2 separate regions of the Homo sapiens genome follow, and region 2 is linked to region 1. Evidence: fine-mapped expression QTL. Tissue or cell type: prefrontal cortex. Region 1 holds a variant in brackets; the other region holds the start of a gene. All regions are shown on one strand. Distances are from middle to middle.

What was found. PIP is the estimated chance that this variant, and not a neighbour inherited with it, causes the effect.
Region 2: GALNT11 starts here. The variant in region 1 is fine-mapped to the expression of GALNT11 in prefrontal cortex (GTEx, PIP above 0.99). The same link has a PIP of 0.9 or more in hippocampus and visceral fat.

What each region holds. Positions count from the first base shown.
Region 1 is chr7:152,056,469-152,064,468 of GRCh38, reverse strand. All of the region lies in intron 1 of GALNT11 (polypeptide N-acetylgalactosaminyltransferase 11), which reads right to left. Among named protein-coding and RNA genes, the nearest start is that of GALNT11, 35 kb to the right of the region's middle. The variant C/T (reference allele first, on the strand shown) is at 3,905.
Region 2 is chr7:152,022,167-152,030,166 of GRCh38, reverse strand. GALNT11 (polypeptide N-acetylgalactosaminyltransferase 11) reads right to left here and starts at 4,493. Exons shown (of 12, transcript NM_022087.4): 1 at 4,283-4,493. RefSeq lists silencers at 3,959-4,658, 5,509-5,803.

The DNA of each region.
Region 1 (8,000 bases):
TATTAACCTTAAATGTAAATGGGCTAAATGCTCCAATTAAACAACACAGATTGGCAAATTGGATAAAGAGTCAAGACCCATCAGTGTGCTATATTCAGGAGACCCATCTCATGTGCAGAGACACACATAGGCTCAAAATAAAGGGATGGAGGAAGATCTACCAAGCAAATGGAAAACAAAAAAAGGCAGGGGTTGCAATCCTAGTCTCTGATAAAACAGACTTTAAACCAATGAAGATCAAAAGAGACAAGGCCATCACATAACGGTAAAGGGATCAATTCAACAAGAAGAGCTAACTACCCTAAATATATATGCACCCAATACAGGAGCACCCAGATTCATAAAGCAAGTCCTTAGAGACCTACAAAGAGACTTAGACTCCCACACAATAATAATGGCAGACTTTAACACCCCACTGTCAACATTAGACAGATCGATGAGACACAAAGTTCACAAGGATATCTAGGAATTGAACTCAGCTCTGCACTAAGCGGACTTAATAGACATCTACAGAACTCTCTACCCAAAATCAACAGAATATACATTCTTCTCAGCACATCACACTTATTCCAAAATTGACCACATAGTTGGAAGTAAAGTACTCCTCAGCAAATGTAAAAGAACAGAAATTATAAGAAACTGTCTCTCAGACCACAGTGCAATCAAACTAGAACTCAGGATTAAGAAACTCACTCAAAACCGCTCAACTACATGGAAACTGAACAACCTGCTCCTGAATGACTACTGGGTACATAATGAAATGAAGGCAGAAATAAAGATGTTCTTTGAAACCAATGAGAACAAAGACACAACATACCAGAATCTCTGGGACACATTTAAAGCAGTGGGTAGAGGGAAATTTATAGCACTAAATGCCCACAAAAGAAAGCAGGAAAGATCTAAAATTGACACCCTAACATACAATTAAAAGAACTAGAGAAGCAAGAGCAAACACATTCAAAAGCTAGCAGAAGGCAAGAAATAACCAAGATCAGAGCAGAACTGAAGGAGATAGAGACACAAAAAACCCTTCAAAAAAATCAATGAATCCAGGAGCTGGTTTTTTGAAAAGATCAGCAAAATTGATAGACCGCTAGCAAGACTAATGAAGAAAAAAGAGAAGAATCAAATAGACGCAATAAAAAATGATAAAGGGGATATCACCACCGATCCCACAGAAATACAAACTACCATCAGAGAATACTATAAACACCTCTACACAAATAAACTGAAAATCTAGAAGAAATGGATAAATTCCTGGACACATACACCCTCCCAAGACTAAACCAGGAAGAAGTTGAATCCCTGAATAGGAAAATAACAGGCTCTGAAATTGAGGCAATACTTAATAGCCTACCAACAAAAAAAAGTCCAGGACCAGATGGATTCACAGTTGAATTCTACCAGAAGTACAAGGAGGAGCTGGTACCATTCCTTCTGAAACTATTCCTATCAATAGAAAAAGAGGGAATCCTCCCTAACTCATTTTATGAAGCCAGCATCATCCTGATACCAAAGCTTGGCAGAGACACAACAAAAAAAGAGAATTTTAGACCAATATCCCTGATGAACACCGATGCAAAAATCCTCAATAAAATACTTGCATACCAAATCCAGCAGCACATCAAAAAGCTTATCCACCATGATCAAGTGGGCTTCATCCCTGGGATGCAAGGCTGGTTCAACATATGAAAATCAATAAACGTAATCTACCATATAAACGGAACAAAGACAAAAACCACACGATTATCTCAATAGATGCAGAAAAGGCCTTTGACAAAATTCAACAGCCCTCCATGCTAAAAACTCTCAATAAATTAGGTATTGATGGGATGTATCTCAAAATAGTAAGAGCTATTTATGACAAACCCACAGCCAATATCATACTGAATGGGCAAAAACTGGAAGCATTCCCTTTGAAAACTGGCACAAGACAGGGATGCCCTCTCTCACCACTCCTATTCAACATACTGTTGGAAGTCCTCGCCAGGGCAATCAGGCAGGAGAAAGAAATAAAGGGTATTCAATTAGGAAAAGTGGAAGTCAAATTGTCCCTGTTTGCAGATGACATGATTGTATATTTAGAAAACCTCATCGTCTCAGCCCAAAATCTCCTTAAGCTGATAAGCAACTTCAGCAAAGTCTTAGGATACAAAATCAATGTGCAAAAATCACAAGGATCCTTATACACCAGTAACAGACAGCCAAATCATGCGTGAACTCCCATTCACAATTGCTTCAAAGAGAATAAATACCTAGGGATCCAACTTACAAGGGATGTGAAGGATCTCTTCAAGGAGAACTACAAACCACTGCTCAATGAAATAAAAGAGGACACAAACAAATGGAAGAACATTCCATGCTCATGGATAGGAAGAATCAATATCGTGAAAATGGCCATACTGCCCAAGATAATTATAGATTCAATGCCATCCCTATCAAGCTACCAATGACTTTCTTCACAGAATTGGAAAAAACTACTTTAAAGTTCATGTGGGACCAAAAAAGAGCCCACATTGCCAAGACAATCCTAAGCCAAAAGAACAAAGCTGGAGGCATCATGCTATCTGACTTCAAACTATACTACAAGCCTACAGTAACCAAAACAGCATGGTACTGGTACCAAAACAGAGATATAGACCAATGGAACAGAACAAAGCCCTCAGAAATAATACCACACATCTATAACCATCTGATCTTTGACAAACCTGACAAAAACAATAAATGGGGAAAGGATTCCCTATTTAATAAATGGTGCTGGGAAAACTGGCTAGCCATAAGTAGAAAGCTGAAACTGGATCCCTTCCTTACACCTTATACAAAAATTAATTCAAGATGGATTGGAGACTTAAATGTTAGACCTAAAACCATAAAAACCCTAGAAGAAAACCTAGGCAATACCATTCAGGACATAGGCATGGCCAAGGACTTCATGTCTAAAACACCAAAAGCAATGGCAACAAAAGCCAAAATTGACAAATGGGATCTAATTAAACTAAAGAGCTTCTGCACAGCAAAAGAAACTACCATCAGAGTGAACAGGCAACCTACAGAATGGGAGAAAAATTTTACAATCTACTCATCTGACAAAGGGCTAATATCTAGAATCTACAAATAACTCAAACAAACTTACAAGAAAAAAACAAACAACCCCATCAAAAAGTGGGCGAAAGATATGAACAGACACTTCTCAAAAGAAGACATTTATGCAGACAATAGACACATGAAAAAATGCTCATCATCACTGGCCATCAGAGAAATGCAAATCAAAACCACAATGAGATACCATCTCACACCAATTAGAATGGCGATCATTAAAAAGTCAGGAAACAACAGGTGCTGGAGAGGATGTGGAGAAATAGGAACACTTTTACACTGTTGGTGGGACTGTAAACTAGTTCAACCATTGTGGAAGACAGTGTGGTGATTCCTCAAGGATCTAGAACTAGAAATACCATTTGACCCAGCCATCCCATTACTGGGTATATACCCAAAGGATTATAAATCATGCTGCTATAAAGACACATGCACACGTATGTTTATTGTGTCACTATTCACAATAGCAAAGACTTGGAACCAACCCAAATGTCCATCAATGATAGACTGGATTAAGAAAATGTGGCGCATATACACCATGGAATACTATACAGCCATAGAAAAGGGTGAGTTCATGTCCTTTGTAGGGACATGGATGAAGCTGGAAACCATCATTCTCAGCAAACTACTGCAAGGACAAAAAACCAAACACCGCATGTTCTCACTCATAGGTGGGAATTGAACAATGAGAACACTTGGAAACAGGAAGGGGAACATCACACACCAGGGTCTGTCGTGGGGTGGAGGGGGGGGAGGGATAGCATTAGGAGATATACCTAATGTAAATGACGAGTTAATGAGTGCAGCA[C/T]ACCAACATGGCCCATGTATACATATGTAACAAACCTGCACGTTGTGCACATGTACCCTAGAAATTAAAGTATATATATATAAAAAAAAAAACTACCAGTAATTTAGCTTAGTGAGGAAGGCATGTGGAAAGCCAAGATGGGCTGAAAGCTAGGCCTCTTGCACCAAACAGCCAAGTTGTGAACGCAAAGGAAAATTCTTGAAGGGAATTAAAAGTGCTATGCCAGTGAACACAGGAATAAGAAAGTGACACAGCATCAATGCGGATATGGAGAAAGCTTTAGTGCTCCAGATAGAAGATCAAACCAGCCAAAATATTCCTTTAAACCAGTCTTAGGGCAAGTCCCTAATTCTCTTCAATTCTATGCAGACTGAGAAAAGTAAGGAAGCTGCAGAAGAAATGTTTGAAACTGGCAAAGAATTGCTCATGAGGTTTAAAAAGATATCATCTCCACAACATAAAAGTGTAAGGTGAGGCAGCAAGTGCTGATGGAGAAGCTGCAGCAAGTTATCCAAAAGATCTAGCTAAGATCACTGATGAGGATGGCTACACTAAACAATATATTTTCAATGCAGACTAAACAGCCATCTATTGGAAGGAGATGCCATTTAGAACCTTTCATAGCTAGAGATATCAATGTCCGGCTTCCAAATAGGGTGACTCTCTTGTTAGGGGCTGATGCAGCTGGTGACTTTAAGTTGAAGCCAATGCTCACTTACCATTCTGAAAATCTCAGGGCCTTTAAGAATTATGCAAAATCTACTCTGCCTGTGCTCTAGAAATGGAACAACAAAGCCTGGATGACAGAACATCTGTTTTACAGCATGATTTACTGAATATATTAAGCCCACTGTTGAGACCTACTAATCAGAAAGATTGCTTTCAAAATATCACTGCTCACTGACAACATACCTAGTCACCCCAAAACTCTCATGGATATATACAAGGAGATAAATGTTGTTTTCATGCCTGCTAACACACTGTCCATTCTGCAGCCCATGGATCAAGGAGTAATTTCTACTTTCAAGTCTAATTATTTAAGAAATAAATTGCGTAAGACTATAGCTGTCACAGACAGTGATTCCTTTGGTGGATCTGTGCAAAATAAATTGAAAACTTTCTGGAAAAGCTTTATCATTCTAGATGCCATTAAGAACATTTATAGCCAGGTATGGTGTCTCATGCCTGTAATCCCAACTCTTTTGGAGGTGGAGGTGGGAGGGTTACTTGAGGCCTAGAGTTCAAGACCAGCTTGGACAACAGAGTGAGACCCAATCGCTACAAAAAAAAAATACAAAAAAAAAAGTTGGGCATGGTGGCACATGCCTGTAGTCCCAACAACTCGGGAGGCTGAGGCGGGAGGACTGCTTGAACCCAGAAGTTTGAAGCTGCAGTGAGCTATGACTGCAGCACTGCACTCCAGCCTGGGTGACAAAGCAAAACTGTATCTCACAAAACAACAACAACAAAAACCCATTCATTCGAGGAGGTCAAAATATCATTTATTTTTTTATTCCACATTTGCCAGAACTACAAAATGTCAATATTAACGGGAGTTTAGAAGAAGTTGGTTCCAACCTTGACCGACAGGTTCAAGACTTCAGTGGAGTACGTCACTGCAGATAGGGTGGAAATAGCAAGAGAACCAGAATTAGAAATAGAGACGGAAGATATGGATGTGCAAATAAATGGTTTCTTGAAATGGAATCGCTCCTGGTGATGATGCTGTGAACACTGTTGAAACGATAACAAAAAGCAGATTACTAAATTTAGTTGATAAAGTAGCAGCAGGGTTTTAGAGGATTGACTCTAATTTTGAAAGAAGTTCTACTGTGGGTAAATTGCTATCAAACAGCTACAGAAAAATCTTTCATGAATGGAAAGTCAATCGATGAGTCAGACTTTACTTCCGTCTTATTTTAAGAACTTGGCCAGGCACAGTGGCTCACGCCTGTAATCCCAGCAGTTTGGGAGGCCGAGACAGGCGGATCATTTGAGGTCAGGAATTTGAGACCAGCCTGGCCAACATGGTGAAACCCCATCTCTACTAAAAATACAAAAAAATTAGCCGGGTATGGTGACGCATGCCTGTAGTCCCAGCTACTCGGGAGGCTGAGGCAGGAGTATCGCTTGAACCGGGAGGCAGAGGTTGCGGTGAGCCGAGATGGCACCAACCTGGGCAACAGAGCAAGACTCCATCTCAAAAAAACAAAACAAAACAAAACAAAACAAAAAGAACTTGCCACAGCCATCCTAACCTTCAGGAAGCATCAGCAGGCATCAATGTTAAGGCAAGACTCTCACCAGCAAAAAGATTACCACTCACTGAAGGCTCAGATGATCATTAGCATTTTTGAACAATAAAGCATTTTTAAAATTAAGGCATGCACATTGGGCTTTTTTTTTAAGCTATAATGCTATTGCACACTTAAAAGACTACGGTATAGTGTAAACATAACTTTTATATGCACCCCCCCAAAAAATGTGTGTGATTCACTTTGTGATAGTCCCTTTATTGCAGTGGCTCAGAACCGAACCCACAGTATCACCAGCATATGCCTGTATTTCTCAAAACTGTCAGGGTCATCAAAAACGAGGAAAGTGTGAGAAACTGTCACAGCCAAGAAGAGCCTAAGGAGACACAATGACCAAATACAGTGTGGTATCCTGCATGAGAGCCTTAGCTTTTACCTATTGTCCTTAGAACAGCAAAAGCACATTAGGTAAAAACTAAGAAAATCTGAATACAGTATGGACATTAGCATTAACTGAAATACACGTACCATATTAATGTAAGATGTTAATAACAGGGGAAATTGGATATGGGATATGTGGGAATTCTCTACTATCTTCACAATATTCTGTAAATCTAAGGCTACGCTAAAACTAAAAGTTTATTTTAAAAAGAACGGGGGTCAGGACATAGATTATTTTGCATCACCAAAATCATCTAATTCTGGCCGGGCACGGTGGTTCACACCTACAATCCCAGCACTTTGGGAGGCTGAGGCGGGTGGGTCATTTGAGGTCAGGAATTTGAGACCAGCCTGGCCAACATGGTGAAACCCTATCTCTACTAAAAATACAAAATTTAGCCGGGCATGGTAGCAGGCGCCTGTAATCCCAGCTACTTAGGAGGCTGAGACAAGAGAATAGCTCAAACCTGGGAGGCAGAGGTTGCAGTAAACCGAGATGGCACCACTGCACTCCAGCCTGGGCAACAGAGTGAAACTCCATCTCAAAAAAAAAAAAAAGGAAAAATCATCTAATATCTGAGATTTGCTTCAATTAACCAAGAAGGGCAGGGCTATAGGTTAAAAAAAAAATTACTAATAGATTTTTTAAAATCTATTACTTTCTTCATGTCTGAAAATTTCCATGATATGCTTTTTAAAAAAGAAAGTATCTGGGCTAGGTGCAGTGGCTCATGCCTGTAATCCCAGTACTTTGAGAGGCCCAGCAGGCACACAGCTTGAGCCCAGGAATTCAAGACTGGCCTGGGCAACATCGCAAAACCCTGTCGCTACAAAGAACACCAAAAAAAAAAAAAAAAAAAAAAATAGCTGGGCATGCTGGCACACACCTGTGGTCCCAGCTACTTGGGAGGCTGAGGTGGAAGGATCACTTGAGCCTGGGGAGGTCAAGGCTGCAGTGAGCCAAGTGATCATGTACTGCACTCCAGCCTGAGTAGGTGAAGCAAGAACCTGTCTCAAAAAAAAAAAAAGTATCTGACCCAACAAACTACCGTTCCTTTAACCCTGACACCTGACACCCAGGTGCAGGGTTCTGTATGCATATTGGTTTCTAGAGGTTATAATGTGTCCACATGATTTAGTTGAGTCTTGTCCATGGAGTCAAAGGACACAGCCTCCAGAGTCCATTCTCATGGGTTTGGTGTGTGTCTCTGTATATGTTAACTATTTTCTTTTTACTTCTGCTTCTTCATTATTTAATACAAATTTCATTGTAATGTTACAATGTAGTCTCTAGGTAAGGGAATGCTCACATGGACATGTGTGTAGAAGGGTGTGTAGACATGCAGAGTAGTCTGAGGATGGATTTTGCCAGTGGTTAAGTTGTAGTCTCTTCACTCCAA
Region 2 (8,000 bases), 34 kb after region 1:
GACTCTACTCCTCTACCTCTTGTCTTTTCTTTTATCTCTGTCTTGTGTCTTTATTTCTACACTCTCTCGTCTCCGCACACGGGGAAAAAACCCACCGACCCTGTGGGGCTGGACCCTACACCCTATTCCTTTAAAAGCCACAGTAAAGTTAAAACCTATAACTGATAATTGAAGGCCTTCTCTGTAACTCTGTAACACTCCAATACCACCTTGTTGTCAGTGTAAACAAGGGCGTAGCCCAAAAGCACTGAGGCCACTGACAACCCATAGCCTTCCTATCAAAAATCCTTAACCCAGCAGGTTTCCTAACAGGGGATCTAAATCTTAACTAACTACCATACAAAGGTCCGACCAGATCTAGGAGGAACTCCCTTCAGGACAGGACCATAGATGGTTCCTCCTGGGTGATTAAGGAAAAAAGACACAAGGGGTATTCAGTAAATGATAAGGGAACTGTAGAAGCAGAGTTAGGAAAACTGCCTAATAATTGGTTTGCTCAAATGTGCGAGCTGTTTGCACTCAGCCAAACCTTAAAGTACTTACAGAATCAGGAAGGAGCCATCTATATCAATTCTAAGTTAATATGGACTGAACGAGGTCTTATTAATAGCAAAGAATAATTGAAATCCCAAACTTACAAGGTTTTCAACAAAAGTAAAGTTTGCTAAAAGTTAACAGTGTAAACATATATTATTCTAACTTCTAATCTTGTGGAAATCAGACCCTATCAGTACCCCTCAAAGCTCAAGTCCGTCAGTGCAGAGCCATACAACTAATACCCCTACCTATAGGGTTAGAAATGGCCACTGCTACAGGAACTGGAATAGCCAGTTTACCTACTTCATTATCCTACTACCACACTCTCAAAGGATTTCTCAAGAGAGTTTGCAAGAAATAACAAAATCTATCCAGTAAGGATAGTAACTACAATTCCAAATAGACTCTTTGGCAGCAATGACTCTCCAAAACCACCGAGGCCTAGACCTCCTCACTGCTGAGAAAGGAGGACTCTGCACCTTCTTAGGGGAAGAGTGTTGTTTTTACACTAACCAGTCAGGGATAGTATGAGATGCCACCCAACATTTATAGGAAAAGGCTTCTGAAATCAGACGCCTTTCAAACTCTTACACCAACCTCTGGAGTTGGACAACATGGCTTCTCCCCTTTCTAGGTCCTGTGGCAGCCATCTTGCTATTACTTGCCTTCGGGCCCTGTATTTTTAACCTCCTTTTCAAATTTGTTTCCTCTAGAATTGAGACCATCAAGCTACAGATGGTCTTACAAATGGAACTCCAAATGAGCTCAACTAAACTTCTACCAGGACCCCTGGACCAACCTGCTGGCCCTTTCACTGGCCTAAAGAGTTCCCCTCTGGAGGACACTACAATTGCAGGGCCCCTTCTTCACCCCTATCCAGCAGGAAGTAGCTACAGCAGTCATTGGCCAAATTCCCAACAGCAGTTGGGGTGTCCTGTTTAGAGGGGGGGGATTGAGAGGTGAAGCTGGCTGTGCTTCTGGGTCGGGTGGGGACTTGGAGAACTACTCTGTCTAAAGGATTGTAAATGCACCAATCAGGGCTCTGTGTCTAGCTAAAGGTTTGTAAACACACCAATCAGTGCTCTGTGTCTAGCTAATCGGGTAGGGGACTTGGAGAACTTTTCAGTCTAGCTAAAGGATTGTAAATGCACCAATCAGTGCTCTGTGACTAGCTAACTGGGTAGCAGACTTGGAGAACTTTTCTGTCTAGCTAAAGGATTGTAAATGCACCAATCAGCGCTCTGTGTCTAGCTAAAGGTTTGTAAACGCACCAATCAGCACTCTGTAAAAACCGACCAATTAGCACTCTGTAAAACAGACCAATCAGCACTCTGTAAAACAGAGCAATCAGCACTCTAAAATGGACTAATCAGCTCTCTGTAAAATGGACCAATCAGCAGGATGTGGGTGGGGCCAAATAAGGGAATAAAAGCAGGCCACTGGAGCCAGCAGCGGCAACCTGCTCGGGTCCCCTTCCATGCTGTGGAAGCTTTGCTCTTTCATTCTTTGCAATAAATCTTGCTGCTGCTCACTCTTTGGGTCTGCACTAACTTTATGAGCTGTAACACTGACTGTGAAGGTCTGTGGCTTCACTCCTGAAGTCAGTGAGACCACAAACCTACTGCGAGGAACAAACAACTCTCGACATGCCACCTTTAAGACCTGTAACACTCACTGCGAAGGTCTGCAGGTTGACTCCTGAAGTCAGTGAGCTCATGAACCCACTGGGAGGAAAAAACAACTCCAGACGTGCCACCTTTAAGAGCTGTAACACTCACTGCAAAGGTCTGCGGCTTCATCCCTGAAGTCAGCAAGACCACGAACCCACCAGAAGGAAGAAACTCTGGACACATCTGAACATCAGAAGGAACAAACTCTCGACATACCATCTTTAAGAACTGTAACACTCACCGCGACAGTCCGTGGCTTCATTCTTGAAGTCAGCGAGACCAAGAATCCACTGGAAGGAACCAATTCCGGACACATTTACGCAGCAGCCACGTCAGACTGGGACACTTCCTGCTTACAGAGGACTATAAAACCCCTTCCTCACTTGGGGCTGATGCTATTATAAAACCCATTCCTCACTTGGGGCTGATGCCATTTAGGCATAAACCCGTCTGCACCCAGGCGCTTATTAAAACAGCATGTTGCTCCACACCGCCTCATGTCGTGGGGGTTGTTGGTGCGTCATCGGGGTTCAAACCAATACAAGAGCCTTGCAGGTTGTTTGTAGCACTAACAAAGGATAAATGCTTGAGAAGATGGATACCCTGCTTATCCTGATGTGATTATGCATTCTATGCCATATCAAATATCTCATGTACCTATAAATACATATGCCTACTATGTACCCACAAAAATTAAAAATAAATTTTTTTGAGATGGAGTCTCGCTCTGTCACCCAGGATGGAGTGCAGTGGCGTGATCTCGGCTCACTGCAAGCTCTGCCTCCTCGATTCACGCCATTCTCCTGCCTCAGCCTCCCAAGTAGCTGGGATTACAGGCGCCTGCCACCACGCCCGGCTTATTTTTTGTATTTTTAGTAGAGACGGGATTTCACCGTGTTAGCCAGGATGGTCTTGATCTCCTGACCTCGTGATCCGCTCGCCTTGGCCTTCCAAAGTGCTGGGATTACAGGCGTGAGCCACCGCACCCGGCTAATAAAAAAATTTTTAAAGAGATTTATTCTGAGCGAAATGAGTGTCTATGGCCCATGACACTGCCCTCAAGAGATCCTGAGAGCATGTACCCAAGGTGGTGGGGGCACAGCCTAGTTTTATACATTGTAGGGGAACATGAGTCTTCAATCAAATACAGGTATAGACTAGTTCGGGCAGGAAAGGTGGGACAACTCAAAGTGGCGGCTTCCAGGTCATGGGTAAGATGAGAGACAAACGGCTACATTCTTTTGAGCCTCTGCTCTGCCTTTTACTGAACACACAATTTACGCCATGGGGCAGGCAGAGGAATAGCCACTTGTGCCTTAGTCTGGCTCAGTGAATCTGCATTTTTACATAAATACAGGGCAGAGGAAGCCGTCAGACATGCATCTGTCTCAGGTGAGCAGAAGGATGACTTGAGTTCTGTCCCTGTTCCTCACCTGCGAAGACAAGCTGTCAATTTACACTGCCAGGGTGCAATTCCACACAACTGTTTCAGGGTAAAGATGTGGAGGTCCACAGCGAATTTCCTCCTGGCCAAAGGGTGAGGGAGCTGTGTGGCTTTTTATCTTTGCAGCTGTCTTAGGAACAAAACTTAGGGGCAGGTTTGCCTGACGCAGCTCCCAGCTTGACTTTGGCTTAGTGATTTGGGGTCCCGAGATTAAATTTCCTTCCACACTATTCTCCCTAGTTTTGTGTATGTGTGAACTATTCTATTTCTGGGCACTTTTAATTTTAAAAAGTGGACAATACTGATCTGGACTTCATTTTAGGAAATGCTGGGGGAGGCTGCAGGATCAGGTGTGCCTCCGTCCTAAATACGCGAAAACGAGGCCAGCGCCCTGGTCCTCGCCCCCACGCCCGCGAACAAGCCTCAGGAGACGCTGGGGGAGGCGCGGGGGCAGCGGCGTCTCCCGGAGACACGAGCCTCGCCCAGGGGGCGTGCGGGAGCCCAGGACCCGCGGGGAGCCAGGCGCTGCCCCGCCGCCGCCCCCAGCCTGCCCAGGCCCCGCGCGCCGCCGCCGCCGCAGCTCTCGAGGTGCTGAGGGACGCCGGGAGGCCGCCGCCTAGAGGGTACTCACCGCCTTGCCCGCAGCCCAGGATCGCCGCCTTCTGGGACTCGGGCTGCGGCATCTTCTCTCCCGCCACAGCCCCAGTCCGACCCGCAGGAGCGGCGCGGGCTGAACTGCCCCGGGGCCCAGCAGCCAGGCGTCGCGCAGGCGCTGGGCGCAGTGGCGGCCGCGCCTCCTCAGGCCCAGGGCCCTCGCCCAGTCCCCGAGCCGCTGCCTCCGCCCAGCGCCGCGCGTCCGCCGGCGCCGCGTGACAGGCGGCCCCGCCCCCGCGCCGCGGTGACGAAACCTCTCGCTGCCCTGACGTCACCGGCCGCCGCGCGCTGAGTCCTCCCTAGCGTTCGCGCAGAGGCGCCGCGCGTGGCCTGGCTCCTGTTGTCTGTCACCCGCGGTCTCAAAAGACCCCATTAATGACAAATGCCCTGCCTGTGGCCCCGGCTACTCCGGAGGCTGAGGCGGGAGCAGCGCTTGAGCCCGGGAGCTCTGCGCTGTATGCGCTGTGCCCATTGCGCGGCGACACGCATCTGTGTTCCGCATCGGTGTGGTGACCTCCCGGGAGCAGGGACCACCAGGTTCCCCAAGGAGTGGGGAACTGGCCCAGCTCGGAAACCGGGCAGGGCAAAACTCCTGTGCTGATCGGTAGCGGGATCGCGCCTGTGAATAGCCACTGCCCTCCAGCCTGGGCAATACAGCGAGACCCCATAAGTGAAAAAAAAAAAAAAAGACAAATGCCCTTAAACATATTAAAAGAAGTTAAACGCCACTTGTGATAGAAGAAAATGTAGATTAAGGTGTAAAGAGAGAAGTGGTGAAAAAAACACTCATACCTTGGTGATAATAGTGCAATGTATACAAATACCATAAAAGGGGAATTGGCAATTTTTAAGAAAAATGGTGTGGGCATTCATCTTTGGCCAATAATGCCAAGTTATATTGAAGAATATCTTAATACTAATCTTCTTTGCATTTCTGAAATAAATCCCACTTGGTTAAGAATATTTTTGAACTTTTTTAAAGAACTCATTGCTTCACAATTAAAGTCTGATGGGGTACACGCGTAGCAATGGAGGAACTTCTACAGCTACTATAAATTAAAGAGCACCACCTGAACCAAAGTAGTGGCCTTCTTGAGCTGAACTGAGCTAACCACATTCCCCAGCCCCTCTTCCACAGATACCCCATGGGGTTGTCAGGGTGTAGGGGATGCCATGTTGTACCACCCAGGTTTCCCCTTAAGGACTGAGGACTCATTTCTCCAGTTGTTGGGTGTGTAGGCCGCTGATGGCCCCCAGCTGAGTCTTGTGGCCACTTCCCTCAGCCAAAGAGAACTGCTGCTGGGTGCCAAGTTGAATGCTTTTGACTCCTTCTACCATGCTTGTGTCTTGATTGGAGATTGACAGATATTTCAGGTACTGGTTTCTCTTGCAAGGGCAGTGCAGACAGCACACAGGTATCTTTGCCCAGTTTCCTTCAATGGTTGCAGCTCATGTAAAATATACATAGTATAATATCAAATAAGCGTCATTGGGGATCAATCCTGCTGGGATCCCCCTCAGAAACTATTCACAGCAGTGGCAGGCAAACTAGGGCAAAGTCTACTAGGTATATTTAAAAGTGTATTACAAGTTTATTTAAATACATAAATATGTTTCCAGAAAGTAATCCTTCCAACTACCTAAACTAGTAATGAAAAATGTTAAATATCACCTTAAATATGTATAAGGGGATACTAAGTTCTTGTATTTAAACCTTATTATTTTAGTATATACTCAAGCAAAAGAGTTTGAAGACCAGACCTTTAGGGCCTCACTACTCAAATGGTGGTCCAGCAACAAGCGACACCAACGTCACCTGGAGTGTGTTAGAAATGGGGAGTCTTGTGCTCCACCTACTTAATTAAAATCTGCATTTTTACCAAGATTTCCAGGTGATTTATACACAAATTAACATTTGAAATCATGCTCTAGGATTAATCAGGGCATGTAAATTTCCATTGTTTCATCTTCTCCTGACCCTTGATAGTATCAGATATTTAAATATTTGCCAACCTGATGAGTATGAGATGCATCTGTTTATTACTTTAAATACTATTCTACCTGATTAATGTGCAATAATTACTTAACCATTATTCTCGTAATTGAGGATTTGGGTTAGCTCCAATTTTTCACTATCATACAGAATGACACTAAAATGCTCTTTTCAGCGTATCATTCTGGTTAAACACAATCTTTGAGGCCACGCTGATTAGGATCATGTAAGGGCCGTGTTATTGTTTGTCCTTGGATACAGTTGCCAGATGAAATACAGGATGGCCTGAAATTTGAATTCCAGATTAAGAATAATTTTGTGGTTTAAGTATATCCTGTGCAATATGTGAGAGGCTTGTCTTCATCTGTGCTGCCATAATAAAATACCTGAGACTAGGTAGTTTAAAAACAAATTTGTTTTCCCACTCTCCTGGAGGCTGGGAAGTACAAGATCCAGCAGCCGTATCTGGTAGGCTGCTGGTGAGGGCTTTGTGCTACATCATAACGTGGCAGAGAATCGGAAGAGGAAGCGCGCACTGGCTAAAGGGGCAATGTTACTTATTAACAACCCGCTCTCAAGGTACCTAATCCAGTCTCAAGAGACTGGGAACTCTCAGTGACTGCGTTAATCTTTTCATGGGGGGCTGGTCCCTCATGGCTCAAATGCCTCTTAAAGGTCCTACTCTGTCTCAACACTGTTACCCTGGGGTCCAAGCCTCAACATGAATTTTGGTGGGGATAAAAGGTATTCAAACTGTAGTGCTGTTGCTTTGTCAGTTGTTTCAACATGAATTATGGAAGACACATTCAGAATGTAGCCATATGTACAGTAAAATGTTATTGTCTATTTGAAATTCAAGTTTAACCAGGCATCCTGTATTTTTATTAGCCAAATAGGGCAACGTTAACCTGGGCACATTCTAACCATCGTTTTCTCATCTATGAAATGAGGATAGCAGTAGAACTCATAAAGTTGTTGTATGAATGAAAGGAGATAATCCATGCAGACTACTTATAACAGAGTATGAAACGTAGTAAAAGCTCAGCAAATGTCAGCTCTTCTTAGTTGTTGTTTCATACAGGTGTGTCTTGGGATAAATTCCTAGAAGGATGTTTTAGTTACAGAACTCCTGGGCTTAATTTCAGACTTGTTTGAGCATTCCATCATACCAAAAACTGTTTTGTAAGAAACCCTAAGCAGGTTACCAGATACTTTTCAACTAGCTTCAAAATACAAATCAGATTTTTAAATTTCCACACAAAAACAAAAAATTGCCATCTATAGGCAAGTATCAATTTCCCTTTAATCACACCAAATATTTGGATATTGATTCTGATTTCTTTTCTATTTTAGGGTCAACTGAAGCAATATTTAAGAAGATACTGTCCAAGGGACATGCTGAACAATTTCTAGGACTTATCTGTGTTATCTAGTACCTAAACTAAATTACATTACAAAACTAAGACTTAATATTAGGCCCACGGCTTTTAACAAAAGAGAACACTCCTGTCTTTTGCTTTTGGGAAAGCTGATATTTACAGCATCCATTCTTTATGCTTACCAGAAAAAAAATATACTTTTTAATGTTACATATATATCATTTATATATTACATATAATAATTATATATAACATATATATATTCTCAAATTTCAACTAGAAAAAAACTGTTACTTTAAGAAGATACTCCATATTTATACTAC